Homo sapiens: one gene and its partners. The protein of the gene in region 1 interacts with the protein of each later gene in a pairwise test. Each region holds a gene or a part of one and is shown in the gene's direction. Other genes may lie near its edges.

What was found.
Region 2: the proteins of FYN (region 1) and GLE1 interact in binary tests that used the Homo sapiens proteins (3 or more experiments, as listed by UniProt).
Region 3: the proteins of FYN (region 1) and CBS interact in binary tests that used the Homo sapiens proteins (3 or more experiments, as listed by UniProt).
Region 4: the proteins of FYN (region 1) and BDNF interact in binary tests that used the Homo sapiens proteins (3 or more experiments, as listed by UniProt).
Region 5: the proteins of FYN (region 1) and cystathionine beta-synthase interact in binary tests that used the Homo sapiens proteins (3 or more experiments, as listed by UniProt).
Region 6: the proteins of FYN (region 1) and UNG interact in binary tests that used the Homo sapiens proteins (3 or more experiments, as listed by UniProt).
Region 7: the proteins of FYN (region 1) and WBP11 interact in binary tests that used the Homo sapiens proteins (3 or more experiments, as listed by UniProt).

The regions. Positions count from the first base shown.
Region 1 is NC_000006.12:111,863,022-111,867,209, reverse strand, and holds part of FYN (tyrosine-protein kinase Fyn), read left to right. Parts: intron 1-4,188. UniProt on the Homo sapiens protein: Non-receptor tyrosine-protein kinase that plays a role in many biological processes including regulation of cell growth and survival, cell adhesion, integrin-mediated signaling, cytoskeletal remodeling, cell motility, immune response and axon guidance.
Region 2 is NC_000009.12:128,539,073-128,543,260, forward strand, and holds the end of GLE1 (mRNA export factor GLE1), read left to right. Parts: intron 1-543; coding exon 544-626; coding exon of another isoform or gene 627-642; exon of another isoform or gene 643-805; intron 806-1,202; coding exon 1,203-1,266; intron 1,267-2,029; coding exon 2,030-2,098; 3' UTR 2,099-3,216; downstream 3,217-4,188. UniProt on the Homo sapiens protein: Required for the export of mRNAs containing poly(A) tails from the nucleus into the cytoplasm. May be involved in the terminal step of the mRNA transport through the nuclear pore complex (NPC).
Region 3 is NC_000021.9:43,052,399-43,056,159, reverse strand, and holds the end of CBS (cystathionine beta-synthase), read left to right. Parts: intron 1-60; coding exon of another isoform or gene 61-102; intron 103-2,176; coding exon 2,177-2,280; 3' UTR 2,281-2,969; downstream 2,970-3,761. UniProt on the Homo sapiens protein: Hydro-lyase catalyzing the first step of the transsulfuration pathway, where the hydroxyl group of L-serine is displaced by L-homocysteine in a beta-replacement reaction to form L-cystathionine, the precursor of L-cysteine.
Region 4 is NC_000011.10:27,658,558-27,662,745, reverse strand, and holds part of BDNF (neurotrophic factor BDNF precursor form isoform a preproprotein), read left to right. Parts: intron 1-2,473; exon of another isoform or gene 2,474-2,590; intron 2,591-3,087; exon of another isoform or gene 3,088-4,160; coding exon of another isoform or gene 4,161-4,181; coding exon 4,182-4,188. UniProt on the Homo sapiens protein: Important signaling molecule that activates signaling cascades downstream of NTRK2. During development, promotes the survival and differentiation of selected neuronal populations of the peripheral and central nervous systems.
Region 5 is NC_000021.9:6,464,372-6,469,236, reverse strand, and holds the start of cystathionine beta-synthase, read left to right. Parts: upstream 1-1,723; 5' UTR 1,724-1,789; exon of another isoform or gene 1,790-3,056; intron 3,057-4,217; 5' UTR 4,218-4,293; intron 4,294-4,865. UniProt on the Homo sapiens protein: Hydro-lyase catalyzing the first step of the transsulfuration pathway, where the hydroxyl group of L-serine is displaced by L-homocysteine in a beta-replacement reaction to form L-cystathionine, the precursor of L-cysteine.
Region 6 is NC_000012.12:109,096,010-109,100,859, forward strand, and holds the start of UNG (uracil-DNA glycosylase), read left to right. Parts: upstream 1-1,587; 5' UTR 1,588-1,670; coding exon 1,671-1,802; intron 1,803-2,162; exon of another isoform or gene 2,163-2,317; coding exon of another isoform or gene 2,318-2,422; coding exon 2,423-2,629; intron 2,630-3,179; coding exon 3,180-3,275; intron 3,276-4,850. UniProt on the Homo sapiens protein: Uracil-DNA glycosylase that hydrolyzes the N-glycosidic bond between uracil and deoxyribose in single- and double-stranded DNA (ssDNA and dsDNA) to release a free uracil residue and form an abasic (apurinic/apyrimidinic; AP) site.
Region 7 is NC_000012.12:14,793,153-14,797,340, reverse strand, and holds part of WBP11 (WW domain-binding protein 11), read left to right. Parts: intron 1-337; coding exon 338-534; intron 535-2,236; coding exon 2,237-2,370; intron 2,371-2,604; coding exon 2,605-2,804; intron 2,805-3,418; coding exon 3,419-3,610; intron 3,611-4,188. UniProt on the Homo sapiens protein: Activates pre-mRNA splicing. May inhibit PP1 phosphatase activity.

The DNA.
Region 1 (4,188 bases):
ATGAGCCACTGCTCCCAGCCAGGACTAGGTCTTGAATATAAATTCGTTAGCAAACAAATTACAAAAATTGAAGCCATGGATGTGGGTGAGGTCACCCAGGGAGAATGTGTGGAGTAGAAAGAGCAGAAAGGGCAGAGAGCAAGCCCAGGAACAGAGGAGGAGTCAGGCCCAGAATGGGAGAGGAGCCTGCGGAGTACTAGACCAGCTTCAGAGTTGAGCAACATAAAGAACAAAAAATGCAGTTGGATTTAGCACTGAAGATATCTGAACCTGCCCAAAGCAGCATCAGGAGAACTAGAGGGGGAGAAGTCTAGAAATCTGTTGCTCCCCAGCCAGGGTAAAAACACATATCAAAGCCTGTAGAACATACAACCATGAAGGACTCTTGCGGTTTTTCATGGGCACAGGCCATGGAATCTTAGAGATCATGTAGTCAACATGTTCATTTTACTCGTGAGGAAAAATGAAGTTAAATGAAGAGGTTAAGCAACTTGTCCAAGATGGCAAAGTCACCAGGTTTCACACCTCTCAGCCCAGGTGTGTGGTGTGGTTAAGAGCATGGGGTTGGGGCCGGGCACGGGGGCTCACGCCTGTAATCCCAGCACTTTGGGAAGCCAAGGCAGGTGGATCACCTGAGGTCAGGAGTTCAAGACCAGCCTGGCCAACACGGCGAAACCTTGTCTCTACTAAAAATACAAAAATTAGCCCGGTGTGGTGGCACAGGCCTGTAATCCCAGCTACTTGGGAGCCTGAGGCAGGCGAATCGCTTGAGCCTGGGAGGCAGAGGTTGCAGTGAGCTGAGATTGTGCCACTGCATTCCATCCTGGGCGAGAGAGTGAGGCTCTGTCTCAAAACAAAAGAAAACAAAACAAAAGCATGAGGTTGGGGTAGGGTCCGGGTTTGACCCTTTCCAGCTGTGTGGGCTGGGCCAAGTTACCTGGTCTCTCTGTGACTCCTTTTCTTCATCTTTAAATGGAGATAGTAGTTCCTGCCTCAGAGGGTTGCTGTGAGGATTCAGTGAGTTAATACATGTCAAATATTCAGAACAGTGTCCTACACATAGGAAAAGCTATGTGTTTGCTGCTGTTGTTAATCCATATGTATGTGTGTATGTGTATATATACACATATGACATACATGCTTTAGGGAAGGGATGATGACAATATATTGTGTGTATGTAAGGAAACTTTGAATATTTTAGAAAGAGATTTGGGTGATTGTCGGTTCTGAATCAAAAATTGTTAGAAAAGTTGGGAAATTTACTTACATGGTATGATTGAAAACAGCATTTTTAGTAAGAAATGCAGCACCTTCATTCTTGAGAACGGAAAACATGAAAGCATTCTGACGTTAACCCTGTAAAAGGGTTTCTTTTAGTCAGATAACCAGAATTTTAACCTATTTACAATGGAAATCCCTCGAGTTTGACTTCAGAATGTCATTGTGACTTTTCTAAAGGTAGAATGAACTATAAAGTAAGAAAAAACTATGGGTTATGACTTTCACACATTTGGCTCCTATGAAAAAAGAGTGATTTGTGTTATTTAGAGGACTATAATAATTTTTTTAGTGTTTCTAGTTGAGCAAATCTAATTTTTAGCTACTAAAACACATGAGAAGCCTGAATGGTATTATCCAAATGGACTTGGGTGACATGCAATATAGACAACTTAGGAATAAGTGACACTGTGGACTTGATTAGAACGCAGTAATCCTGGAAGAATATAAATTGAATTGGATTTATGGTCTAATAAAAACGTGGGAGGAAAAGATAATGCTTACTGACTCATGAAACTTTAACAATGTTTGTAAGACTCCGAGTTGTTGTAATATTTGGTTGAGAGCGCTTTCCCATTTGTCTCAGCCTGCTTCCAGAACAGCCTGCTGTGCACCTCCGTCTGGAAGTGAAGCCTGACTTGGGTCTCCTTCTTGGGTATACTTAGGAAGCAGAGATCATCACATACTCTGCCCTTGTAAACCCATGACCTCGAGCAGCACTTGGTTGGTTTAGGCAAATATGTATTGAGTACCTATTAACTGTAAGAGTTTGGGGGAGAAAAAAGTACCATGGGAAAGTCCTAGCTCATTGCTTATTTGCACTCAGAAAGCTTTTTTAGAGGACTACTTGTTTCTGGCCTTGTATTCTCCTTTCTGTGATACTGCAAAAAAGTAGAGAGCATACCACAGCTACCTACTCCTCCCTGAATACACCATAGAAATAATAGCACCTGCCATTTTATTGAACTCGGAGGCATGTGTTAGGTGCTTACATACAGTCATGTACTTAATCATAGCAACTCTAGGAGGCATGTATTATTATACCCATTAGTCAAATGGGGAGACTGAAGCTCAGAGAGGCAAATGGCTCATGGTCACACAGCTAATAACTAGTGAAGCCAGGTCTGTGTGACTGCTAAACTCTTTCCTGCTTTTGCTCCAGAGCTGTGGTTCCTCATTCCCTGCCTCCTTGCCTTTGCTTTGCAGTTACTTCTGTGTCCTGTGTTGCAGGATGCAGAGGCACCTTTACCCACCGTGGAAGTCTCACCCTTTCTGATGACTCCCCTCAAAACCTACTGCCTCTTGAGAAGCCCTCCCATCTCTCTTACCTCTGGGCTCCCAGAGCACCTGATTACCACCTCATCATCATCCTCATCATAGCCTGATTCGTAAGGCTGAGGGAACCAGCTGGGTAGGACAGTGGGGCAGGCACTGGCCTTTCCCACCGACTTGTGAGCTCTTTGGAAGTCAGGGACTCTATTTTATGATTGATTTGTCAACATAACACCCAGCACAATTCTAGGAGGTACTACCATTATTATCCCATTTAAAAGATGGAAAAACTGAGTCACAGAGGCTAAGTGATTTAGTCAGCGTCACAGAGTAAGTGACAGAGCTGGGATCTGAACACAGCAGTCTGGCTCCAACATCTATGTTCTTCACACTAAATTTGCGCCATCTCTTTAATGAGATTGTAAACTGTGAGGGTGGAGGTGGTGCCCAGCAGCTCCCAGCCTAGTATCTCACAGACTCTGCACAGTAAACATCAGCCCTTTTGTTCTCCTGTCCACCCCAGCAGAGTGACAAACAGAATATATTGAACCAGGTCTTATCGCATAATAAGAAAAGAGCACAAATATGCTGAAGATCTCATAGAATGCATATCCCCAGGCCTCATTTGGATTCAGTGGGTATGGGCCAGGCAGGGCTGAACGCTTCTCATCTTTTCTGTATCTGGGAACAACAGTGAGAAGGGAAGAGTCAGCAGGCAGCTCTGGAAGACAAGGAAGGAAGCAAACATAGGGAGTCCCAACTAGAGTAGTGGGAGCAGGCGGAGAAGTGGTAGAAACCATCAGTCAGCAAGAGTCAGAGAGTGCCGAAGCTTGAGAGGGGCCCGGGATCATAAATCCGCACAGAAAGACCTCTTAACTTGTAATTTAAAGGTTTCTAAGTACCTGTGCCTTTTGAATATGCTGGTGGGATTTTATCTGATGAAGTCAAACACTTTCATTTTCTTCAGAGCTTCCATCTTTGAGGTATCCAAAAATAGTAGGCTTTTCATGGAGTTGTATAAGGATTCCATCTGCTTTATATTGAAAAGTAGGGCTTTAATGGAAAATTAAAAATGAGCCAGATCTCCTTTCCCACAACAAAGCCCAGGGCACTTTTCCCAATCCTTTCTTCTTTTAATCCCCAGAAAGTTACTGAATCTGTATTTCTGTGAAATCCTGCCCAATTTAAATTCTACTGAAAAGGCAAATAAACACCAACAACTTCATTTCCACACAAATGTCATGTCTATTTAGAAGCAATAACAATTTCAAATGTTGTCACTTGTGAAATTTGATTTTTGTTTTAATTTTATTTTTTTGTTATTCTAGAGATTGTGTGATGTATTGCCTGTACCTAGGCACATACATGCACATAAGGATATTTTAAGAAGCGCTGATTTCTGTTAATGGTTTCTCTAGTTGCTGTCTGAGTTTGAAGGGTATCACCTTTTATTGTCTAGTTTGGCTTCACTCTCATATTTCCTAGATTGAGTGAGGAGGTATTGATCCATGTCACTGTGGATGTGCCGGCTAATGTAGATACTGGTTCTTGGATCCTGTCCCTTTACTAAACAGCCCAGTGAATGGAGGCAGAATGACCAGGTTCCTTAGCCTGGCCTTCAGTGCCTTCTGTAGTATC
Region 2 (4,188 bases), on another chromosome or scaffold:
TCTACCAAAAAAATACAAAAATTAGTGGTGTGTGCCTGTGGTCCCAGTTACTGAGGAGGCTGAGGTTGGAGGATCACCTGAGCCCAGGGAGGTTGAGGCTACAGTGAGCTGTGATCATGCCAGTGTCCTCTAGCCTGGGCGACAGAGTGAGACCCTATTTCAAAAAAAAATAAAAAGCTCCTGAAGTCACCATACATGAACAATGATCCTGTATCATTTGAGAACACAAGTGGTATTCTGTATACTCTCCTTACTAAGTTTGGGAGGTATACCATACCTTTAGGAAGGCGTCCATTCATTAGAGGAAAAGAAGAGTAGTTCATTAAGACCTGATTGGTTAAATGGAGATATTGCCATATAAAGAGAAATGCTTTAGAAGAAAGTTGGGTGTTTCCATTTATTCCCTTGTTAGCAAGTTCAGTGGCATTGTGGTTGAAATTTTTGATAGGTGTGAAAGATGAAGGGCTGATTGTGCTTTATGAATCTGTCCTGTGAGTGTGAATTTTCATTTTCTGCTCTGACAGTGCCTGTCTTTCCCTCTAGGTGTGTGGGAATGCCCTCATGAAGCAATACCAGGTTCAGTTCTGGAAGATGCTAATTCTCATCAAAGAGGACTACTTTCCCAGGTATCAGGCTTGTTGAGCAGACAGCAGGGGATTAAGTAACTCATAACCAGGCCTCAGATACCCAAGGGTGCTATTACCTGCTGGTTTTGATTCAAGTTAAAAACACCTGTACTAAGTATGACATCTTTCCTACTCCAGTCCCTCTCGTTGATATTTGAATAAATGCTTTTGAACCTTAATGAGAGTCTGTCTTAAATATCATTGCCCAAACAAAAACACAAATTAGGGGCTGAGCACAGTGGCTTATGCCTATAATTATGCCTATAATTGCAGCTCTTTGGGAGGCCACAGGAGGAGGATCACTTGAGCCCAGGTGTTCAAAACCAGCCTGGGCAATATAGCAAGACCCCATCTCTACAAAAAAAAAATTAGCCAGGCATGATGGCATGCATCTATAGTCCCAGCTACTAGGGAAGCTGAGACAGGAGGATCGCTTGAGCCCAAGAGTTCAAGGCCTCGGTGAGCTATGATCGCACCACCGCGCTGCACTCCAGCCTAGGTGACAGAGTGAGACACCGTTTCCAAAAGATAGGTGTATATCATAGGTGTGATTCATGTGTCTTTCTCTCCCTGTAGAATTGAAGCTATCACAAGCTCAGGACAGATGGGCTCCTTCATACGCCTCAAGCAGTTCTTGGAGGTAAGATGCCCTTAGACCAACATGCCCCACACTGTTGTTGGGCTGGAATGCACCTATGTCTGACAAGTCTTGGACCTTCCGATGCTCTGATTGCACTCTCTTCCTTAGTTCTTCCAAACCCTTCTTTTTGTTCCTAATTCCCTCTTAACCTTTGGAGTAAGGGCTGCCATTTCCTCTTCTTTATATGTATCATTCTCTATACTGCCTGTGAGAAAGCTATGCTGAGATGAGTAAAATATATTTAGTGTATCTCCTCTCATTAATATATATTTTTTTTGCATGTTGGCCAAGGTTATTTTCTTAGTCTCAGGTCTGGGGAATTGGTAAGTGTCATCACTTTTCTCCATGAGATCAAACTGCACTTTCAGTTGGACTCTTCCCCTACTTCCAAGTGCCAAGAGATTGTAAAAGGTTAATTTTGACAAAGAATTTAGAACACTATAGTGGGTTTGCCAAGATAGCCTGCTGACTTTTCAGCTTCTCAAAGCTCGATTGTGAAAATAGTGATTGTGAAAGATGAGGTTAGCCTGTAGGGAGACAAGAGTGGGACAGGAATAATAAGAGCATTTCATTTGTTGTCTGGAGCAGATCATGCAGAAGTGGACATCTTATACAGAACCATCAGTCTTACTGGCTTTTTCCTTTTTGTTCACTGTTCCATAGGGCTGAAATATGGTGTTCCTCAAAGCTTCTTTTAACCATTAAGTGTTGGGAACACTGTTATCAGAAACTCATTCTGTTTTCTTCATCTTTCCCTGACCAGAAATGTTTGCAACACAAGGACATTCCTGTCCCCAAGGGCTTTCTGACTTCCTCCTTCTGGCGCTCCTGATGTCACTCCATCACCCACCATCACCGCTGCTGCAAAGAGGCAATAATAAAGGAACTGAAGACAGCTGTATTTGGGAGAAGTCATGTCAGATTCAGAAATTTGCCATTATGTATTTTTATGTATTTATGCCTTGTGACTAGGAGAGGAGATTTTCATGGGTCACAAAATTCTTGGAGGTCCCTTAGTAGATTTGGTAGTTCCTTAAGAGATCCACGTGATAAAATAAATGGAGTTGGCCTTTCTTGTTTTTTGCAAAAGTGATAAAAGGTCTTTAGCACTTGGTCTCCTCCCTTGTCTCTAGTGTCTTTCAGAAAGTTGGCAATACCTTAACAAATGCACTCTGAGCTGGAGGGAGCCCACCATTTGCACCCACCTACCCACCCTCACCCCTGTTCAGATGAATTTCCAGAAAGAGCTAAGGCTCATAAGGTTCCCTTTTAAGTATTATTTAATAGTTGAGGCCAGATACTTACATGCAAGTCTGGGTTATGGTTGTTTTGCCTTTCTCAGCTTGTGAAGTCATTCTAAAGCTAGAGGAAGTATGTGATATACACATGGACTAAGGCTCAGGTGACACTATGGCTAGATTAACATCTGGGATTAGGACTGGAAACACATGTCATTTTGAACTAAGGGAAACTCTTTGTCATCCTAATTTGGAATTTGGTCCCTGGATGGCTAGGGATCCATGAACCAGGCAGGTACCTTTTTTGTTTTTGTTTTGTTTTGTTTCTTTTCTGTTTGAATTAAGATGGGCTAAGATGGGGCTTGCAACATTAAACATGAGCTGAGCATCCATAAGCATTGAATTGGGATTAAATAAAGATGTTGGGCAGGAACTGAACACTGCTAATATGATGATAAATATGCCTGACTAAAGCCACTACAGAAATCCAGAGATTGGCTGTTAAAATTTGTTTTGTGGAAAGACTAATTCTCTTTGATACTGCAGAGGCAGTGGCCATGGATCTGTTCCTCTGTGCTAAATGTCTTGTGGCAGGGTGTGTTTGTGGGGGAGTGTTCACTGGTACTCTTGAGTGGCCTGAAGTGACCCATTCTATGAATTGTTAATTAAGGTGCCAAAAAAAATTAATAATAAAGCTTGGTTTTTTGAAAAACCCATTGCTGATATATTGGTTCAATATGATCAATTTCCTCTGCCTTGAGCTATGTAAATCATGATAGTATACAAGTCCAGGTATAGAGCGGTATGCATTTATTCCTTTTGGTCTTCTTGACCTACACCTTGGGAATATTACTTCTTTTTCTGTCATTTCCTTTTTTGGAATTATGTACTAATAACTGACCCTATTTTATCTAGCAAGAGATGTGAAAGTGTATTAAAATCTTTGAAAGACACAATAGGCCGTGCTTAGTGGCTCATGCCTGCAGTCCCAACACTTTGGGAGGCTGAGGTGGGAGGATTGTTTAAGTCCAGGAGTTCAAGACCAGCCTGGGCAACATAGTGAGACCCCCATGTCTAAAACAAATTTTTTTGGCCAGGCGCGGTGGCTCACGTCTTACCAGCCTGGCCAACATGGCAAAACCCTGTCTCCACTAAAATTACAAAAATTAGCTGGGCATGGTGGTGTGTGCCTGTAATCCCAGCTACCCAAGAGGCGGCTGGGGCAGGAGAATTGCTGGAACCCAGGAGGCAGAGGCTGCAGTGAGCCGAGATCACTCCAGCCTGGGCGACAGAGTAAGACTCTGTCTCAAAAAAAAAAAAAATTTTTTTTTAAATTTTTCAGGCATGGTGGCACATGTCTGTAGTCCCAGCTACTCAGGAGGCTAAGGTGGGCAGATCACTTGAGCTTGGGAGGTCGAGGCTGCAGCGAGCTGTGATCATGCCACTGCACTCCAGCCTGGGTGACAGAGCAAGACCCTGTCTCAAAAAAATAAATAAATAAATAAGGTAGACACAATGGAATGAACACTGGGGACGGAGTCAGGAGACCCCGGCTCAAATCACTTTTAGGTTTTTTGGCCTTGGGAAGGTCCTTCACCCGCTCTGAACCTCAGTATCCCCACCTGTAAAACAAAAGAACTGGACATGTCACTGTAGTTTTCAAACTATGCTTGATAGCAGTTCC
Region 3 (3,761 bases), on another chromosome or scaffold:
GCTGAGGCTGGTCCGTGAGGGCCCCAAGTCTAACCCCATCTCCCGTCCTTGGCTCTGCAGCGCAGGACCAGGCCTGGGCAGGCGTGGTGGGGGGGCCTGCAGGTAGGTATCACCCACCCCTCAGAATGGCTCTCAGGCTCAGATTCACAGCCTCCCCATGGCAAATGGAGGCCTTCCAGGGTCCTGGACCCACCCCCAAGCTTGGGTAGGAGGGATCCCCCTCTTAATCTCACATTTACTTGTGTTTGAACATCTCAGAAAAAAAAAAAGATGCAAATTCCAATGTCAGGGTCCCCAAATCAAGTCTTCCTGGAGCATGTCCACGCTTGTCACCACCGTCTGTGGCTGCTTTCAAGCACGTCAGGGCTGCGTGCTCATAACAGAGACGGCACGGCCCCCAAGACCTAAAATACCACCAGCTGGCCCTTGTCGGAAAGTCCCCTGGCTGGCCCTAGTCCATTGACTCTGGGCCGAGCTGCCAGGGCCACAGAAGCCTGCGGCACTCAGGGCTCCCAGGGCTCCCTTCTCCAACAGTTGCTGTGCCTCCGTTTCCCCAAAATGCAAGGAGCTGATCTCATCTGTGTTCCCTATCTTTTCCTGGGGCTCTAAGTGGGCCACCCCAAGGGACCTCTGCCTACAAAGAGAGGAGTGACAGCCGTGGCGGAGTTGGGACGGGCTCCGAGGGCTCTTCCTCACCCGCACCTTGCTCACCCCTCTGTGCCTCATGACAGCTGGTGTAGGGTCCTGTGGAGACGCAGGACCAAGAGGATGTGTGGGGAGCGGGGAGAGAGAGGGAACGAGATCTGTGTTAAGGAACTGGATCATGAGATCACGGAGGCTGACAAACCCTGAGATCTGCAGGGTGAGGCGGCAGGCCGGAGACTGGAGAGCCAGCAGTTCAAGCCCCAAGGCAGGAAATTCCACCTTTGGTTCTATTCAGGCCTTCAACTGCTTGGGTGAGGCCCTCCACAGTAGCACACGTTATCTGCCTCTTGACTCTTGTGCTAATCCGGAATCCCCTCACACATGCCCAGAACGACGTGTGACCAATGCCTGGGCTCCCACGGCCCCGTTAATCTGTATTAAAATTAACCATCACAACAGCCCTGTCTGGGTATGTGGCATGGGAGCCTCGGCCAGCATTAACACCGGGTCTACGCTTGCCAGGAGAAAGCAGGAGGGGTGAAGACAGAATCAGGCCAGAGATGGAAGCTGTGTGCTGCCCATGGTGGCAAGGGGTTTTTGTCTGTTTTTAGAGACAGGGTCTTGCTCTGTTGCCGACTGGAGTGCAGTAGTGCCATCATAGCTCGCTGCAGCCTCGACCTGCTGTGCTCAACTGATCCTTCTGCCTCAGTCTCCCAAGTAGCTGGGACCACAAGCGTGTGCCACCATGCTCGACTAATTTATTTTTAAAAATATTCTGTAGAGACAGGGTCTCAATATGTTGCCCAGGCTGGTCCCAGACTTCCGGGCTTAAATGATCCTCCCACCTTGGCCTCCCACAGCGCTGGGATCACAGGTGTGAGCCACTGTGCCCGGCCCTGTAAGCGGGTTTGAATTTCATGCCCACACCGGCTCTGAAGTCATGAGTGCCTCAGGAGCTCAGCCGGTGGGCCAGGGAAGGGTGTGTCCTGACCTGCGGTGGGTGGAGCCTGGCCTGGGGCCCAGGGGACTCACGTGGTGGGTAGAACCTGGCCTGGGGGCTCATGGGGCTCATGTCAGAAGAACACTGGCTTGGCCAGGCACAGTGGCTCACGCCTGTAATCCCAGCACTTTGGGAGCCGAGGCAAGTGGATCACTTGAGGTCAGGAGTTCAAGGCCAGCCTGGCCAACATGGCAAAACCCCATCTCTACTAAAAATACAAAAATTAGCTGGGTGTGGTGATGTGCACCTGAAGTCCCAGATACTCGGGAGTCTGAGGCACGAGAATCACTTGAACCCAGGAGGTGGAGGTTGCAGTGAGCCAAGACTGCACCACTGCACTCCAGCCTAGGGGACAGAGTGAGGCCCTGTCTCAGAAAAAAAAAAAGGAACACAGCCTTCGCCGCTGGGCTCCAGCCACCCTGGGCCCCCATGGTGCACAGGTGCCCCAGGCCCTCAGGAGCCTCCTGCCCCGCAGCAGCCCACCCAGCCTCCCACGGCACCTGCAAACCCACTGCCTCGTTCTCCCCTCAGACCACAGCACCGGGAAGTCCAGTCAGCGGCAGATGGTGTTCGGGGTGGTCACCGCCATTGACTTGCTGAACTTCGTGGCCGCCCAGGAGCGGGACCAGAAGTGAAGTCCGGAGCGCTGGGCGGTGCGGAGCGGGCCCGCCACCCTTGCCCACTTCTCCTTCGCTTTCCTGAGCCCTAAACACACGCGTGATTGGTAACTGCCTGGCCTGGCACCGTTATCCCTGCACACGGCACAGAGCATCCGTCTCCCCTCGTTAACACATGGCTTCCTAAATGGCCCTGTTTACGGCCTATGAGATGAAATATGTGATTTTCTCTAATGTAACTTCCTCTTAGGATGTTTCACCAAGGAAATATTGAGAGAGAAGTCGGCCAGGTAGGATGAACACAGGCAATGACTGCGCAGAGTGGATTAAAGGCAAAAGAGAGAAGAGTCCAGGAAGGGGCGGGGAGAAGCCTGGGTGGCTCAGCATCCTCCACGGGCTGCGCCGTCTGCTCGGGGCTGAGCTGGCGGGAGCAGTTTGCGTGTTTGGGTTTTTTAATTGAGATGAAATTCAAATAACCTAAAAATCAATCACTTGAAAGTGAACAATCAGCGGCATTTAGTACATCCAGAAAGTTGTGTAGGCACCACCTCTGTCACGTTCTGGAACATTCTGTCATCACCCCGTGAAGCAATCATTTCCCCTCCCGTCTTCCTCCTCCCCTGGCAACTGCTGATCGACTTTGTGTCTCTGTTGTCTAAAATAGGTTTTCCCTGTTCTGGACATTTCATATAAATGGAATCACACAATTGTGGCCTCGTGTCTAACTTATTTCACTTTGCATGGTATTTTCAGGCATGTCAGAGCACGTGTACTTGGTTTCTTTTTGTGGCCGAATAATAAGCCATTGTGTGGATAGACCACATTTTGGTTCCTCATTTATCGGTGATGGACACCTGGTTGTTTCTGCTTTTCAGCCCTTGTGAGTAACCTGCTGTGCACCTTCATGGCCGAGTATGTCTGGACACCTCTTTTCACTTTTCTTGGGTGTGTACCCAGGAGTGGCATTGCTGGTTAATGTGGTAACTCCATGTTTAATTTTTTTTTTTTTTTTTTTTTGAGATGGAGTCTTGCTCTGTTGCCAGGCTGGAGTACAATGGCACAATCTCGGCTCACTGCAACCTCCACCTCCTGGGTTCAAGCGATTCTCCTGCCTCAGCCTCCCGAGTAGCCAGGATTACAAGTGTGCACCACTGTGCCTGGCTAATTTTTGTATTTTTGTAGAGACAGGGTTTTACCATGTTGGCCAGGCTGGTCTTGAACTCCTGACCTCAGGTGATCCACCTGCCTCAGCCTCCCAAAGTGCTGGGATGACAGGCGTGAGCCACTGCGCCCGGCGTCCATGTTTATTTTTTGAGGAACCATCAAGCTGTGTTCCATACTGGTCACACCGATTTCCATTCTCACCAACAGTGCCCGAGGGTTCCAGTTTCTCCAGGTCCTTATCAACACTTGCTATTTTCTTGTTTTAAATTATTATAGCCATGCTAGTGTGTATGAAGAGGTGTCTCATTATGGTTTTGATTTGCCTTTCTGTAATC
Region 4 (4,188 bases), on another chromosome or scaffold:
TCCTTTCAGATCAGCAGCAGCATTAGATTCTCATAGAAGCATGAGCCCTGTTGTGAACTGCACATGCAAGGGATCTAGGTTGTGTGCTCCTTATGAGAATCCAATTCCTTATGATAATTTAACTGATGATCTAAGGTGGAACCATTTCATCCCAAAACCATCCACCCTGCTACTCCCAGACCGTGGAAAAATTGTCTTCCACAAAACTGGTTCCTGCTGCCAAAAAGGTTGGGACCACTGCCTTAGAGTTTATAATTTGGGGTTAGCACAGCCTATATTTACCTGAGAATTTCAATGGGTTCACTGATCTTTCCAAATGAAAAGGCTTCTTACGAAAATTATATCCAAACTGTCTTTTCTCTTAGTTTAATAAACCTATCAGTAAGTTTTTACTGAGTACTGCTATTACATTTTTCTCTGTTAAGCATTATGGGGGCTCAGACATGATCCATTCCCTCAAAGAACTTACCTTTCAGCTGAAGACTGACTAGAATGAGCAAATACGGTTAACAATTAACAAGTGAGTAGGCCAGCTCGGCCAACATGGTGAAACCCTGTCTCTACTAAAAATACAAAAATTAGCCGGGCATGGTGGTGGGCGCCTGTAATCCCAGCTACCTCCTGCTGAGGCAGGAGAATTGCTTGAACCCAGGAGGTGGAGATTGCAGTGAGCCGAGATTGCACCATTGCACTCCAGCCTGGGCGACAGAGCAAGACTCTGTCTTGGGAAAAAAACAAAACAAAACAAGTGAGAAGGGAATCAAGTACTACGTAAGATGTAATGTGGAATTTTAGGGAAGGAAGGCAGTGTATGCTGGAGTAATTAGAGAAAGGGGCATGCATGATTTGATGCTTGAACTGGATCATGAAGGATAAGCAAGATTTTGGCAGCAAGTGAGAGGGAGAGAGGAGTTTGTCAGAGGAATGGAACAAGTCAGGAGGCAGTAATGTGTACGGCACTCCAAGGACTCTGTCCTGATCGGAGCAGAAGTGATGAAGCATTGAGTAGTTTGAGAAAGTTAGCTAAGAAGGGTGAGGGCAGATGTTGGAGAGAGTTGAGTATCAGAGAGAAGACATTAGATTTGAGCAGATAGAACAAAAATGCCATTGCCAGTTTTTGTGTAAGAGAATAGTATTAGGGTGGTTACCCAGGAAGTGGTCATCAGAGTTGAATGGAGCAGAAAGAGTGTCTGATACAGCATCGGGACGTTGTGGTCACAAAATGAGGTGGTGAGGGCTGAGCCAAGATGGTGGCAGTGGGATGGATAAAAAGGGATGGCCAGGACAAATATTTTAAAGGAAAAATTAACAGGACATCTTTACTGACTGGATTGGAAGGCTATGCAGGAAATATATTGTCAAACTTGATTCCAGGATTTCTATCCTATGCCTGGGTTGCCCAAAATATCAGGGAACCATTGTTAGAAAAGGTAGGAGATACCACTGTTCCAACAAAAAGTATTGAGTTTGGTGTTGCACCCACTTAACTTCAAGGCCTTACAAGTGAGTAGACAGTTAGTTAGAATTGCAGAAGTGCCACTCAGAGAGCAGGGCTTGCAATGTGGGGTTGGACTTTGTCACCATTGTGTTAATTCCTAATTCTATGCAGATGCTCAGCTTGAGGAATACCCATGTTTGGGCTTCAGAATGAAAGCCAAGTAATATTTACTCAGATGCCAATTTTCCCTCTGAAATATTTGCTCATGGAACTGAGAGAACAATATATAAAGCATTAATTATTTTTCTCATAAAGTTATTAATAAAAAGATAAGATCAGTGAAAGGCAGAGTAAACTAGAAGCCAAGTATAGAAAATGGTATCATTCAAAGACTCATTACTGTAGTGGTGAAAACAAAACAATTTTCCAACAGCTTAAGATGCCTCAGTATTTTGGACCATTTTTAAGTAGTTAGTGTGGGCACTTAGTAAATATGTATTAAACTATAGTTCATTAATTCTTTTTTTTTTTTTTTTGAGATGGAGTTTCACTCTGGTCACCCAGGCTGCATTTTTGCTTTCTTAGTGATATATAAAATGTCGAGTTTCACAATGATGGTATCTTAGATTTGATTAAATATGGTATTAAAAAATAGCTGATCACAGAAAGTCTCTACCAGTGTGATGTAGATGGCTAAAGTATTCCACATTTGCAAACTTTTATTGACCTAAATAAGAGGTGCCCCTTGGGTTGTTTTTATTTGGACTGGGAATATTAGGAGAAAGCTTTTTCATTCAGTGTGTAAGTACAATCTACCAGAAATAGAAACCCCCATGGACGATCTATTTCTTTGATGGTACAGGACTCAGAACATTCACAAAGATTTAGTTGTTAGCGGAATAGACATCTGTATTTTATTCAAACCAATTTTCCCTTCCTAATCTGAGAACATTGTGCAATCTAAGCAGTTCTAAGCATGTTTGCTATTCGTGCAAAGTGAGAGTAAATCTAAAAGAAATTTTTTTGTGTGTTTAGGGATGGTAATAAAGTCTCTTAGTGGTTGAAAATGTTATTTCTTACAAAAGTGGAGAACATTTGCTTTTCAATACCAGAGTTTTCAGCCATTTCTGCATTCTGACCTATTGACTGGAGGTAGGTTGCCTTTGAATTCAGTAAAACTTCATGGGCAGAAACACAGTTCCTTTTCCTACTTATTTGGATATCATGATGGCCATTGCATGTATGTGTCTTTTTGTAAGTCCATGCCTCAGAACTGAGAAGTAGGAATAAAATTAGGGTCAGGGCTGGGGATGCTACTCTTTGCTGCTGAGAAACACAATGCTTCAGGTAAGTGATTCTGAAGTCCTTCACCACCTGACGGTAACCTTGGGTTGGTCCATAGGTATGTTTTCATTTTGCTTGTTCATCCATTTTAATTGGCTTCCTAGAGCATGCTTGTAGATGTAGAGCCAAATTTAGAGTAGAGCAACCCTCTGGCAAACAGGAAGAGATTAATTTTGTGGTATGCTTTTAAGGGACTTCCCAGGAAACTTCAAAAGCAGAAAAAGAAGCACTAGCTGCCTATTCCAAAATGTGTAAAACACCACTCAGCTTTTTAAAAGTAGGATAAACTCAGAGCGCGCGCACACGCGCGCGCGCACACACACACACACACACAGAGAGAACATCTCTAGTAAAAAGAAAAGTTGAGCTTTCTTAGCTAGATGTGTGTATTAGCCAGAAAAAGCCAAGGAGTGAAGGGTTTTAGAGAACTGGAGGAGATAAAGTGGAGTCTGCATATGGGAGGCATTTGAAATGGACTTAAATGTCTTTTTAATGCTGACTTTTTCAGTTTTCTCCTTACCAGACACATTGTTTTCATGACATTAGCCCCAGGCATAGACACATCATTAAAATGAACATGTCAAAAAATGATTTCTGTTTAGAAATAAGCAAAACATTTTCAGTTGTGACCACCCAGGTGTAGAATAAAGAACAGTGGAATTGGGAGCCCTGAGTTCTAACATAAACTTTCTTCATGACATAAGGCAAGTCTTCTATGGCCTTTGGTTTCCTTACCTGTAAAACAGGATGGCTCAATGAAATTATCTTTCTTCTTTGCTATAATAGAGTATCTCTGTGGGAAGAGGAAAAAAAAAGTCAATTTAAAGGCTCCTTATAGTTCCCCAACTGCTGTTTTATTGTGCTATTCATGCCTAGACATCACATAGCTAGAAAGGCCCATCAGACCCCTCAGGCCACTGCTGTTCCTGTCACACATTCCTGCAAAGGACCATGTTGCTAACTTGAAAAAAATTACTATTAATTACACTTGCAGTTGTTGCTTAGTAACATTTATGATTTTGTGTTTCTCGTGACAGCATGAGCAGAGATCATTAAAAATTAAACTTACAAAGCTGCTAAAGTGGGAAGAAGGAGAACTTGAAGCCACAATTTTTGCACTTGCTTAGAAGCCATCTAATCTCAGGTTTATATGCTAGATCTTGGGGGAAACACTGCATGTCTCTGGTTTATATTAAACCACATACAGCACACTACTGACACTGATTTGTGTCTGGTGCAGCTGGAGTTTATCACCAAGACATAAAAAAACCTTGACCCTGCAGAATGGCCTGGAATTACAATCAGATGGGCCACATGGCATCCCGGTGAAAGAAAGCCCTAACCAGTTTTCTGTCTTGTTTCTGCTTTCTCCCTACAGTTCCACCAGGTGAGAAGAGTGATGACCA
Region 5 (4,865 bases), on another chromosome or scaffold:
TGGATCACCTGATGTTAGGGGTTCGAGACCAGCTTGGTCAACATGATGAAACCCCGTCTCTACTAAAAATACAAAAATTAGCCTGGCATGGTGGTGCGTGCCTGTAATCCCAGCTACTCGGGTGGCTGAGGCAGGAGAATCGCTTGAACCCGGGAGGCTGAGGCTGCAGTGAGCCAAGATCTCACCATTGCACTCCAGCCTGTGTGACACAGACTCTGTCTCAAACAACAACAACAAAAACAACACCGTTTATCATCTTTCTCTCCCGCAGGCTGGCTGAAGGCTCTGAGGGAGGCCCTGGCCACCTTTCCCAGCCCTGTGGAGGCCGCCAGCCATCCCTGCCATTTCTCGTCTGGTGGCAGCACATCTCATCTCTGCCGCCATCTCCACATGGCCTTTTTCTCTCCGCGTGTCTGTGTCCACGTCTCTCTTCTTATAAAGACTGGACAGGATTTTTTTTTTTTTTTTTTTTTTTCTGGAGACAGTCTCGCTCAGTCGCACAGGCTGGAGGACAGTGGCGCGATCCCGGCCTCCAATGCCACCTTCCAGAGCCTTCATGATGTAACTCCATCCCTGTCCCCTCCCCACATCGCCGGCTTTATTGTTCTTCGTGTCAGTTCCTGCCAGTGGACATTTAATTCTAATTCACGTCTCACTCCCTCCCCTACTGTGAGCCCCACGTGGCAGAGACCGCGGCGGAGCTGCGCGGGCCGGAGGAGGCTGCGGAACATCGCTCTGACCTGAGCCGGGGACGCTGCGGAGGCGCAGCACGTTCCTCTGCCCAGAGCTGATGGGCACCGTCCGTGTCTTTCGCTGCAGGTCCGGGGGGAGACTCGGGGGCCTGGGATCCCCCATTTAGCCATAGGGCGGGGGGATCAGGTTCAGCCTCTGAAAGTCCAGAGCACGATGTTTGGGAAACGGCCCCGCCCGCGGCCTCCGGGACCTGGCGAAGGAGCCCCGCGGGGCGCCCCTGCTACCACCCTGCGCGGAGTCGGCCCCGTCCCCGAGAGCGCCCGGCAGCCCCTGGCCGTGGGCCGCACCGGAGCCGCGCAAGGCGACTGTTCTGCGCCTCGGCTCGGGGTTCGGACCCGGCTCTGGGCGCGGTCACGCGGGGCGCTGCGCACGGCGTCCGGCGGCCACAGAGCGCGGCCATCGAGTCCCGCCCCGGCGCGGCGCCCCCTCCCGGGCCCGCGACACACGCCCTCGGGGTCGGTCCTCGAGGACGCGCAGGGCCCCCCACCCACCAGGACGCACGTTTCAAGCTCATCAGTAAAGGTTCCTTAAATTCCCGAAGGGCAAGAAGTTAACCAAGTAAAACAGCATCGGAACACCAGGTAGAAGACACCACCGGGGTCCGCGGGTGGGGGTGGCTGGAACCCGGGGCGGGCGGGCTCAGGCGAAGAGGAAGGCGGGGGAGGGGGCGGCGACCCGGGTCTGCGGTTGAATCAACAGGGCGTGGGAATGGGGCGGGCGGACTGGGGTGGGGGCATGCCGGGGTCCCGGGGAGGGCGGGGGTCGGGCAGGCCGGAGGGTCCCAGGCTGCGGCGGGGTGGGGAAGGGGTGGGGGGGAGGGGCCCGGGCTGGGTGGGGTGGAGGAGGGGCTGGGCGGGCGGGTGCTCTGCCACGAGACATTGGCCGGCGCCGGCCTCCGCCCCCGCCTCTCCGCCAATCACCGCCCGCCTGCTCCCCTCGCCGTGGGTCCCCGCGAGGCCGCCACCCCGGGGTCGCCGTCTCCGCCTCGCCGCAGTCGGGGCAGCCGCTCGCCCCTCTTTTCCATGTATCCGTCCAGGTGAGATCCGGCCCCACCGAGACTCGCTCCCCTCTCTGGACAGAGGATCTCAACTGGGTCCCGGTTTCCCTCTCCGCGCCTCCGCCCAGAGTTGCATCATCTGCACCGAAAGGCGGCGAGACAGGGTCTCCCAAGACCCCCGCCCCACCGGCGCCCACGCCTGCGGTCTTGACCGCCCAGAAGATGGGGGCTGGCCGTGCACGTGGCCCCGGGCTCCCACCCCAGCCCCCGCGCCGGCGGAGTGGACCCCACTGGCGGCGAGTCCTGGAGCGTGGAGCAGGGACGCGGGGTGGGAATCCGGGGGAGATGCACGTTTCGGTGCCCAGCATTGAGTTCGCTGCATTGTGGATGGGAAATGGCTGTTTGCAAATCGCCCTTTTTGGCGGACCGTGTGGGGTGGCGGTAAACGCTGTCGTTGCGCGGGCGGCACGCGAGGTGGGTGCCCGCTGGGGGAGGGACGCGGGGCTCTGCCCAGGTTGCGTTCGGGGGATGGAGGTTTTCCTGGGACCTCACTTCCCTGAGCCCCAGGCGAGACCGCAGCTGAGCTGTAGGATGCAAGCGGGAGGCGGAGCGTGGGTGGGAGAGCGGAGCGCGAAATTCTCGGCTTCCCGAGGATCTTCTGGGCTTACTTGTCCCCAGCTTTGTCCCAAAGTGTCGCTTCCGGAGGCGGAGTGGCCGGCGGTTTCCGGGTCTCAGTAGGGTCTGGATCTCCCACCTGGAAACCTAGAGGAGTTTCCCGCTCTCCGTGCGCGTGGCCTTCCCCAGGCCCCTCCGGGAGTGCTGGCGCGCGAGTGCAGGGGTGCCCCGGGAACGTCGTGACCCCAAGGGGGTCTTGTGGTTTAAGGAGCGAACGGAACCGGCCAGGCGATGCCAGCTGAACCCGCCTTCCCGGGACGCACGTGCATCCGGCCGCCCGGCGCTGTTGTCTTGGGGAGCCCGCGGGTTCGGGTCTGGGTCGCCTGGCGAGCTTTCCGCCGAGCGCCTCTGAGTTCTACAGAGCCCCGACGGCTTGCGATCTGCGTTCCCGGCAGTCCCTTACCTTGCGAGAGAGGGCTCCAGGGCGAGGCGAGGGGCCAAAAGCAAGGCGCTGGGCCGCCTGCGTCTGCCGGGGCCTCGGGTCCACGGCTTTCTGGAAGATTCGGCGGCGGAGCATGCGCGCCCCAGGCCAGACAGGGCCTGTGCCAGACGGAGAGTCCCTTCCCGTAGGTGACTCCCGCGACCCGCGGAGGAAGGTGCTGCTCCGCTCACGGCGGCGGCTTCTTACAAGGTTGGGATAGAAAGAAAAGCGTGGGACACGAACCTCTGAAAGCGGGTGCATTTTTCTGGGGAAGAGAAGATCCAACGCCTTCGGATTTTCAGACAAGTCCGTGGTCCCAAGACCTTGAAAGCACCACCCTCCAGGGTCGTTTGAAGCCGCTTTGGCCCCCAGTCTGGTGAATTGCAAAGGTGGAGGGGAGGCTGGGAAGTCCAGGAGGCCAAGCTGAGGCCTGGGTAGGGCCTGTGCGCAGAGACCACCTGAACAGCATACTCCAAGGGCTTCCAAAGGCAGCCGGCTTCCGCAACTTTTTCTTTTTTAATAGGCTTTTTAAAAAAAAAGCAGTTTTAGGCCGGGCGGGGTGGCTCACTCCTATAATCCCAGCACTTTGAGAGGCTAGGCGGGCGAATCACCTGAGGTCAGGAGTTCGAGACCAGCCTGGCCAACATGGTGAAACTTCGTCTCTACTAAAAATACAAAAATTAGCCGGATGTGGTGGCGGGCGTCTGTAATCCTACTCAGGAGGCTGAGACAGGAGAACTGCTTGAACCCGGGAGGTGGAGGTTGCAGTGAGCCGAGATCGCACCACTGCTCCAGCCTGGGCAACAAGAGGGAGACTCCGTCTCGAAAATTTAAAAAAGAGCAGTTTTAGATTTAGAAAAATTGAAAAAATAGATAGAGTTCCCCCAGTTTCCCCTGTTATTAAGATCTTAAACTGATGTCGTATATTTGTTACTTTATTTATTTTCTTTTATTTTTATTTTTATTTTTATTTTTTGAGACGGAGTCTCGCTCTGTTGCCAGGCTGGAGTGCAGTGGCGCGATCTCGGCTCACTGACCTCCCCCTCCCGGGTTCAAGCGATTCTCCTGCCTCAGCTTCCCGAGTAGCTGGGACTACAGGTGTGCGCCACCATGCTTGGCTAATTTTTGTAGTTTTAGTAGAAACGGGGTTTCACCATGTTGGCCAGGATGGTCTCGATCTCTTGACCTCATGATCCGCCCGCCTCGGCCTCCCAAAGTGCTGGGATTACAGGCGTGAGCCACCGCGCCCGGCCTATTTGTTACAATTAATGAGCCAATTCCACGATCACATAACCATTGTTGACATTAACCAAAGTCCGCGCTTGAGTCAGATTTGCAGAGTTTTCTCCTCACTGCCCTTTTCTATTCCAGGATCCCATGACAGATTCTGTTGTCACGTCTCCTTACAGAGTTTGAGCGGTGCTGAACTGTCAGCACCATCTGTCCGGTGAGTGACGGCTGTGGACTTAGTCTTCCTGTTGAATGTGGGGAATCAAAGGAGGGTGAAGCGGGGCTGAGCCCAGTCCTGGGCCCTCTGAAGAAGGCAAGGTGGGAGGTGGTCGTGGGTTCCTTGTCCCCCCAGAGGAGGGGCAGCAGATGGGACCTCGCCTGGCTTTCTTTTTGCTTTCTTCTTTTTTTTTTCTGTCTCATCTATTTCAGGTGCGTGTGTGTGTTTTTAATCCTGGGTAAAATACACGTAACACTGATCACTGTAACCATTTCTAAGTGTGAGGCAACCACCGTGACTATCTCCACCCAGAACGTTTTCATCATCCCCAGCACAACCTCTGCACCCATTAAACAATCACCCTCCCTTCCCCACTCACCTCAGCCGCTGGCCGCTTCTATTCTACTTTCTATCTCTATGAATTTGCCAGACATAGAGGGGCGTTCGAGAGTCCCAGGTGCCTCATCGTGGAAGTGGAATCACACAGTATTTGTCCTTTTGTGTCTGGCTCATTTCGCTTGGCATAATGTCCTGAAGGTTCGTCCGTGTTGTAGCGTGTGCCAGAATTCATT
Region 6 (4,850 bases), on another chromosome or scaffold:
CTTTTTCTTTTTTTTGTTTGTAGACAGGGTCTTGCTCTGTCACCCAGGCTGGAGTGCAGTGGCACAATCTCAGCTCACTGCAACCTCCGCCTCCCGGGTTCAAGTGATTCTCCTGCCTCAGCCTCCTGAGTAGCTGGGATTGCAAATGCATGCCACCACGCCTGGCTAATTTTTGTATTTTTAGTAGAGACGGGGTTTCACCATGTTTGCCAGGCTGGTCTCGAACTCCTGTGCTCAAGCGATACGCCCCTCCTTGGCCTCCCAAAGTGTTGGGATTACAGGCGTGAGCCACCGAGCTGGGCCAGGCCCCAGGTATTGTCATGATGTAAAAATCTCTCTCTAGAAAAGAGAACACCAGCTTCCCAGCTGGTCTTCTGTAGCTAGGAGATGCAAGAGCAGCAGTTGAATTTGAGGTTTGCTTTGGAGAAAGAACCAAAAGCAGATATGGATGGTTTGGATGTGAGGGAGGGAAAGAGAATCCTAAGTGTATTAGTAGTGGTGGGAGGAGGTTCGGTACAGTGGTGTCATTTGGAAGACAAATCGTTGGTGTTTAACCTCTATGACCCGAAAGTCTCCCACAAGCCTGATACATTAGGCAAAATGTTTGACTGCACTAAGCCTTAGTTTATCGTCATAAAATAGGCCATGAAAATTGCGTGAGAAAATGTATATAACAGTTCAACAAATAATATTGGCTGGGTGTGGTGGCTCATGCCTGTAATCCCAGCACTTTGGGAGGCCAAGGTGGGCAGATCGCCTGAGGTCAGGAGTTCGAGACCAGACTGGCCAACATGGTGAGATCCCCCATCTCTACTAAAAAAATACAAAACACACTTGGGCAAACATGGTGAAACCCCATTTCTACTAAAAATAGAAAAATTAGCCAGGCGTGGTGGCGCGCGCCTATAATCCTAGCTGAGGCACGAGAATCGCTTGAATCCGGGAGGCGGAGGTTGCAGTGGGCTGAGATCACACCACTGCATTCCAGCCTGGGCGACAGAGCAAGACTCTGTCTCAAAAACAAAATACACACACAAAATATAATAGTATTTGTTTGTTTGTTTGTTTTTGAGATGCCTCGGATTACAGTGCGGGGATTACAGACGTGAGCCATCAAGCCCGGACAATATTATTATATTGTTCATTGCACTCCCACAACACCCCTAAGGGGCAGGAACTTTTCTTCCCAGCCCCCTCCCCCCGACCCCACCGAGAGACAGGGTCTCGCTCTGTCGCCCAGGCCTGGAGTGCATTGGCGCGATCAAAGCTCACTACAGCTCAGACCCTCTGGCCTCAAGCGATCCTCCAGCCTGGGCCTCCCAAAGCGCTAGGATTACAGGCGTGGGCCACCGCGCCTGACCAGTCTTCTCTTCTTGCAGCTGAGCCTTAAGAGCCTGTCCAAAGAGCAGAGGTGGGCTGAAGGCACAAAGCGAATGAAAGAATAGGCCCCCGGGCACCGTTGCACGCCCCACCTCCTCCCAGGGGCGTTGCACTCCAGCCCCTCCCGCACATGCGCACTGGGCCTTCCACCGCCCCCCGCCCCCAGCAAAGCCCCCCGCTCGGAGCATGCGCGGGCCGCTTGGCGCCAATTGCTGACCGCCACAGCCACAGCCAGGGCTAGCCTCGCCGGTTCCCGGGTGGCGCGCGTTCGCTGCCTCCTCAGCTCCAGGATGATCGGCCAGAAGACGCTCTACTCCTTTTTCTCCCCCAGCCCCGCCAGGAAGCGACACGCCCCCAGCCCCGAGCCGGCCGTCCAGGGGACCGGCGTGGCTGGGGTGCCTGAGGAAAGCGGAGATGCGGCGGTGAGGCGCGGCTTGGGCCGGGGCTAGGGGGTGAAGGGGGAGGAAGGCGGTGGGCCCCGCCTGACGGAGGGCGTGCAGGATCGCGCCTCTGACTCGGTAAACCCGGGCTCCGCTTTCCAAATAGCCTCCACGTGTTCAAAATAGCCGCCGCTGTCCCCCATGGGCCGCCATGCTAAAGGGCCAGCCAATGGGAACGCGTCTCGGGGCCCATGGCGCCAATCCGCGCGCCGCAGGCCCTCCTGGCTCGGTGCGCTGTCCAATCAGAGGGGAGAGGGGGCGGGACCCAGAGGGAGGTTTTTTGCCGCGAAAAGACCACGTGGGGACGCGGTGGGGCGGGTCTGGCGGGGGCGGGGCACCTCTGTGCAGGGTTCCCAGTCACCGCGACGCTCCTCGGGAAGCCATAGGGCGCCTCCCAGCCCGTCTCCCCGCTCCAGTTTAGAACCTAATTCCCAATTCCCGGACCGGGCCCAGCCCTGGGCTCTTACTGTCCGCTTTTGCTGGGACCTGTTCCACAAATGGGCGTCTTCTGCCTTGGGCCGTGGGGGTTGGGCCGGAAGCTGCGGACGCCTGGGAAGGGGCCGCTGCAGCTCTTGAGCCGCCTCTGCGGGGACCACTTGCAGGCCATCCCAGCCAAGAAGGCCCCGGCTGGGCAGGAGGAGCCTGGGACGCCGCCCTCCTCGCCGCTGAGTGCCGAGCAGTTGGACCGGATCCAGAGGAACAAGGCCGCGGCCCTGCTCAGACTCGCGGCCCGCAACGTGCCCGTGGGCTTTGGAGAGAGCTGGAAGAAGCACCTCAGCGGGGAGTTCGGGAAACCGTATTTTATCAAGGTAAATATGGAAATGCACCTTCCATAAGGGTAAATGTGGAGGCTGCCGGCCCTTTTGTCTTGTTAGTGTAGCCGGCCAAGTTCATGTTTCCGTAGGCTTAGGTTGTACCCCCTTCAACCTCCTTTACTCACAAAGGGGGTAAAAGAAAGCCATGATGTTTCACTCTGCAGCTTTATATTGGTTAAAGTTGTTAACGACCCGCGAGATGATATCATGGATTCATTTAAGTCACATAGTCTATTGTCCAGGAAAGGCTGGCGTAGTAAAATCACCAACCATCCTGAATGAAACCTGGCTTGAGCTTTAAAAAGCCGAGAGGAGTGGCACTGTCAGGACCCAGCCCAGAGAAAGAGGCAAGGAATTGACCTGATTGAACCACTTAGGTGGGGGGGCAGGCACTGTTTTTGTTTGTTGTTTTTTAAAAGAATTTGGACATAACATGACAAAGAACTAATGATGTTCCAAATAACTTGCACTAGAAGCTTTCTTATTGAATTCTTATGGTTTCCAATGAGAATCTGATTTTAAGTCTAGTTTATCTTTAAATCAGCTAATGGGATTTGTTGCAGAAGAAAGAAAGCATTACACTGTTTATCCACCCCCACACCAAGTCTTCACCTGGACCCAGATGTGTGACATAAAAGATGTAAGTACAACTTGTTGATAATTTTTATTGGGGAGAAGGAGTCAAATAGTATTTTTAAATTAGGGACACTGGAGTTAAGCCACAGTCCATCATTCAGTAGTAAATAAAACACTGAAATCCCGAGGTTTGGCTGACTGTATTTCAGCCTGTATTTACTCTTTTTAATGTTTACCACGTGGTATTTATGTGGCAAAAAGGAAAACTATGTACATCCTGTGCTCTTATTTCTTGTATTTTTTTTAAATCCTGAAACTAACCTCCCGCGGTGTCAGATGTTATGGTGGTGGTGAAGTTCAAACTGACACACAAAGCAGTTAAATCTTTTGCAGCTTGTTATAGTCAACCCCACCTTGACCTGACCACACTGCCTTATAGTTAGCACTTTCAAGCTCTTGACTTCTGGCCTGAACAGTTTTGTGGTTCTGTTATCAGATCCCTTTGCTTTAGTTTGTCTTATATAACAGTTGCTGGTTGGCGGCTCTCATCCATCTTGTGTTCAGAAGTTCGTGGGGCTGGGCACGGTGGCTCATGCCTGTAATCCCAGCACTTTCGGAGGCCAAAGTGGGAGGATCATTTGAGGTCAGGAGTTCAAGACCAATGAAACCTGGTCTCTCCTAAAATACAAAAATTAGCCGGGCATGGTGGCGCACGCCTGTAATTCCAGCTACTTGGGAGGCTGAGGTGGGAGAATCGCATGAGCCCAGGAGGCGGAGGTTGCAGTGAGCTGAGATCACACCACTTCACTCCAGCGTGGGCGACAGAGCCAGACCCTGTCTCAAAACAAAAAAAAAACCGTGGCTTCTCACTGTTGAACTATGAAAGCAGAGCAACCCTCTTTAAATAGGGCCACGTCCTACCTCTCAGCCTTACCTCCACCTCCCACTCTCCCACTCCAGAGTTGGACAGTGTGGCAAACCCCTCCCCACTTCTGTCTCTTAAAAATCAAGTAGATGCCTCTGTGGCACCTCCTTGAATTGAAGTCCGTTGCCTGCCACCTCTGTGATCCAGTTTTCCTCTGAGCTGCTACGATGCATTTAGCACCTGCTGACACTGGACTTTTAGGTTTCTTACCCGTTTTCCTCCCCCGTTTTGTAAACTGGGGCAAGAATCTTGTGATTTAATGAATATCTGTGAAATGACATAGAAGTGAAATAGGTGAATAAATCATCTTGATAAGGCAGCCACACCTAATACTTAGAAAATCTCGTAAGCTTAATTTTAGAGTAAGAATTTAGAATCTAGCTCTTTGGTTTTGAAGCTAAATTAAATCCTATTAAGATCAATACTAATTTGCTTCTTGTTTGAATGCCCTATTCTGAATACCAGTAATCAGTATAAACAGGGAATATTAAAAGGAATATTTTGAGGGAATGCTCAAAAACCAGTTTCAAACCTATGAGGATCAGATGGGCCAGCAGGGCTTCTTGACAGACCAGCATTGGGAGAGTTGTTTCACAAGAGAATATGTTGGCATGGTGTGAACACCAAGGGGAGGGACAAGAGGTCCCCAAAAGCCTCCTGGTCATGGAACATCTGGAGCTGGATTCTGAAAGATAGAGTATGTCAGCTGTGGAG
Region 7 (4,188 bases), on another chromosome or scaffold:
TCAAAATTTGACAGGACTAACGTAGTAGGTAAACACAAATCTGACAGAATCTTCACGAGGTTTTCAGCACAGAGCAGTGAAAATTGATTTTTATTACAATGAAGATGAAAGTCAATTAGGTGGCATTTCTGAGAAAGGTAAAATTAGTGGCCATCTAAAAAGGGTGGGGATTTTAATAAATATTGTAGTTCTTCGAATAAAATTGAAAAGAGTATGTCTGGTGTCTAGATCTCTTAAAAATTTTTTAGCATATATGGAGGTTTTTATCATGTAACCTATTGATACCTAATTGAAGTGGCCTCTTATATTTAATTCCATAATCTACTTTTTCTCTTAGAGTTTAACCCAGTGCAACAGCCACAATTAAATGAGAAAGTACTGAAAGACAAGCGTAAAAAGCTGCGTGAAACCTTTGAACGTATTCTACGACTCTATGAAAAAGAGAATCCAGATATTTACAAAGAATTGAGAAAGCTAGAAGTAGAATATGAACAGAAGAGGGCTCAACTTAGCCAATATTTTGATGCTGTCAAGGTAATCAAGGTTTTTTTTTTGAGAGATAAACTAAAATATTATACAGATTGAGTATCCCTTATGCAAAGTGCTTGGGACCAGAAGTGTTTTGGATTTAGGGTTGTTGGGTTTTTTTTATATTTTGTTTTGTTTTTGTGTATATTTGCATATATTTTGGGGATGGAACCCTAGTCTAAGCATGAAATTTATGTTTCATATACACATAGCCTGAAGATAATTTTATAAATTTTGTGCATGAAACAAAACTACGACCCATCACATTAGGTCAGGTGTGGATTTTTCCACCATGGCATCATATGGGAGTCAAAAAGTTTAGGATTTTGGAGCATTTTAGATATTCAGATTAGGGATGCTCAGCCTATACTTAGATTTAAAAAGTTAATGGGAGAATGTCATGTTGAACCTCTTCCTTATAGCAGTTTCTTCTAAAACTAAACATATACCTACTGTGTGAACCTGCAAATCTAATCCTCTTTATTTAAACAGAAGAAATTAATTCAAAAACTTGGATCAGCCTAAGTGTTCACTAATAGGATAATGGATAATTAAACTGTAGCATATTTATACAATAGAATACTATTCAGCAATAAAAGGAATAATCTAATACTCAAAACAGCATGGAATAAAAAAAGAAAAATTGTGAGTAAATCTCAAAAACATGCTAAGTTTATCTCATTGTTATGATTTCATTTTTATGAAATTCTAGAATAGTCACAGATAATCTGTGCAGGAAAAAAAAATGTAGCCGTGGTTGCCTTGGGGGATGATATTAGAGATGGATTGGGAAGGAGTATGAGGTATATGCATTTGTCAAAACTTACTGAATTTGTAAATTTCGTAAATTTTACCTCAAAATAAAGATGGGAAAAAATCAAATGCTATAATTTCTGTAAAGGAGGTAATATGTCTCCCATTTTACAGATGAAGGCACAGGTTACCTTGCTTAGTCAAACTAAGCTAATACACAACAGAAATTCAACATAGGCAAGCTAATGAGCCCAACCTCCACCACTGGATATATACTATTTGTTAGTTGACATATATTATTTTTCTTTTTTTTGTTTATTTTTTGTTTTTGAGACCGAGTCTCACTCTGTTGCCCAAGCTGGAGTGCAGTGGCACCATCTTGGCTCACTGCAACCTCTGCCTCCCAGGTTCAAGCAATTCTCCTCCCTCAGCCTCCTGAGTAGCTGGGACTACAGGCACACGCCACCACAACTGGCTAATTTTTGTAGTTTTATTAGAGATGGAGTTTCACCATATTGGCCAGGCTGGTCTCAAACTCCTGAGCTTGTGATCGACCTGCGTCAGCCTCCCAAAATGCTCGGATTACAGGTGTGAGCTACCACGCCCAGCCTGACATGTATTTTTCTATCACATGTTAAATAGGGTAGTTCTGGTGCTAGATACTTGTAACAGTTGGCTTTCTCTAGACAACAGCTGTTTCGAATCATCCAAAAAGAATTACCTGATAAGAGGAGAAAAAAAACAGCTGGGTTCTGACGTTTTTAGAAGTAAAGATTTCTTTCAGTTCTTTGACAATGTGGAAGTATTGACGTAAGGTTATTTTTCTGGGGGTTTTTGGTGATATTTATGTTAGTTGGAAAGCATGTCCAAGTTACGAAACAGCTGACTTGTCATTTTTAGTGTTTAGTTAGTAGATGACTTTTTTATCATACTACTGAATGGTTCTCTGTTTCAGAATGCTCAGCATGTGGAAGTGGAGAGTATTCCTTTGCCAGATATGCCACATGCTCCTTCCAACATTTTGATCCAGGACATTCCACTTCCTGGTGCCCAGCCACCCTCTATCCTAAAGAAAACCTCAGCCTATGGGTAAGGAAGCAGTGTCACAATCAGAGAGCATTTAGTAAAGGCACAAGTTGACTGTCCAGTGCCAAAATTAATGCAGAGGGAAATAAAAGACAATATGGATGTAAACAGTGTGACATTTGATTAAATGTAAAATAAGAAATCCCTTGAAAATTGTTTAGAAGAGAAAATAAATATCTCATTACTGTTAAGTGATTACTGTGGGGGTTTTTTTGTTTTTGTTTTTTTTTTTAACAGACCTCCAACTCGGGCAGTTTCTATCCTTCCTCTTCTTGGACATGGTGTTCCACGTTTGCCCCCTGGCAGAAAACCTCCTGGCCCTCCCCCTGGTCCACCTCCTCCTCAAGTCGTGCAGATGTATGGCCGTAAAGTGGGTTTTGCCCTAGATCTTCCCCCTCGTAGGCGAGATGAAGACATGTTATATAGTCCTGAACTTGGTGAGAAGTGACTGTTCTTTTGCTTTTATAACTATCATTTTTTATGTTGGCCCTGTTTAACATATTGTTCACCACCCTCAGAACTTAGAAAGTAAATGAGAGGGTATCATGTACATAACTAATATACATACAGTTGGATAAATCATAGGATCTTCTCAAGTAAAAGCATCATACATAAGTATAGAAATGTTTATCGTGTTTTAAATTAGGCTTTTCCTGGAGATGTCACTCTTGCTGCTAATCCTTTAAGACTTGTATATCTGGTTCCCTTTTAGCTTTATTGTCATCAGACTAGAGCGTCATTGTATACATTCACTGACTGTGTATGTGTATACAAACATGATTGTTGCTAAAGGAGGAAATGGGTTTTCAAATTAGAACTCTTTTTAAAAAAATCTTAAATTACCAAAAAGAAGTGTTTAAAATTATTGGCAGAGGAAAATTTTGTTAGACTGTATGAGTAGCTATATATACAAGAATTTTTTTTTTTTTTTTTTGGTAAGAATTAAGTTGTTACAGTCTGAGTTGAATAGCATAATTTTCTGTATTTCTGGGTACCATGTAGTGGAGGGTCCAATCATACTACTTCTCCATGTTCCCTTCCCACTTTTCAGCCCAGCGAGGTCATGATGATGATGTTTCTAGCACCAGTGAAGATGATGGCTATCCTGAGGACATGGATCAAGATAAGCATGATGACAGTACTGATGACAGTGACACCGACAAATCAGATGGAGAAAGTGACGGGGATGAATTTGTGCACCGTGATAATGGTGAGAGAGACAACAATGAAGAAAAGAAGTCAGGTATGTGCAGATGAAGGATTCATGGTATTGATCAATAAAGAGAAAACAAGCTGAAGGTCCTAATTTATTAATGAATCTGTGAGAGTACTCTGAAATCTTTGGAAGTCGGGATCATAGCTGTGTTCATCTTATATATTAAAATTTTGAAAGTTTTTGACACAGTAAGTACTCAGTGGATGTTTATGAGGAAAAGCATTAAACTGTATGTAATAAAAATGTCTATGTAATAAAGTTCACTTTGGGGTAAAAGGTATAACTATTCAACAGCATAAACGTATTATGGGTATGTTACAGGAAAGAAAGGAGAGTAGCCATATTAAGAAAAACATTGATGTTGTATTTTATAAATCTGTTTAAATATCTACCTTTGAAGCCCTTTTATGGTATCTTACATGAACCAGGATCATAATTATAACCCAGGTACACTCATGAGTGGAATCATGAAACATATTATATCTATAATGTGTGTGTTTGATTATTAAAAAATTCAAATAGGACATTTGTCAAGAAAATTTTAAGCATCATAATGGGTACTGACAGTGGAAAATGCACACCAATTCTGTCAAACCTCAGCAATT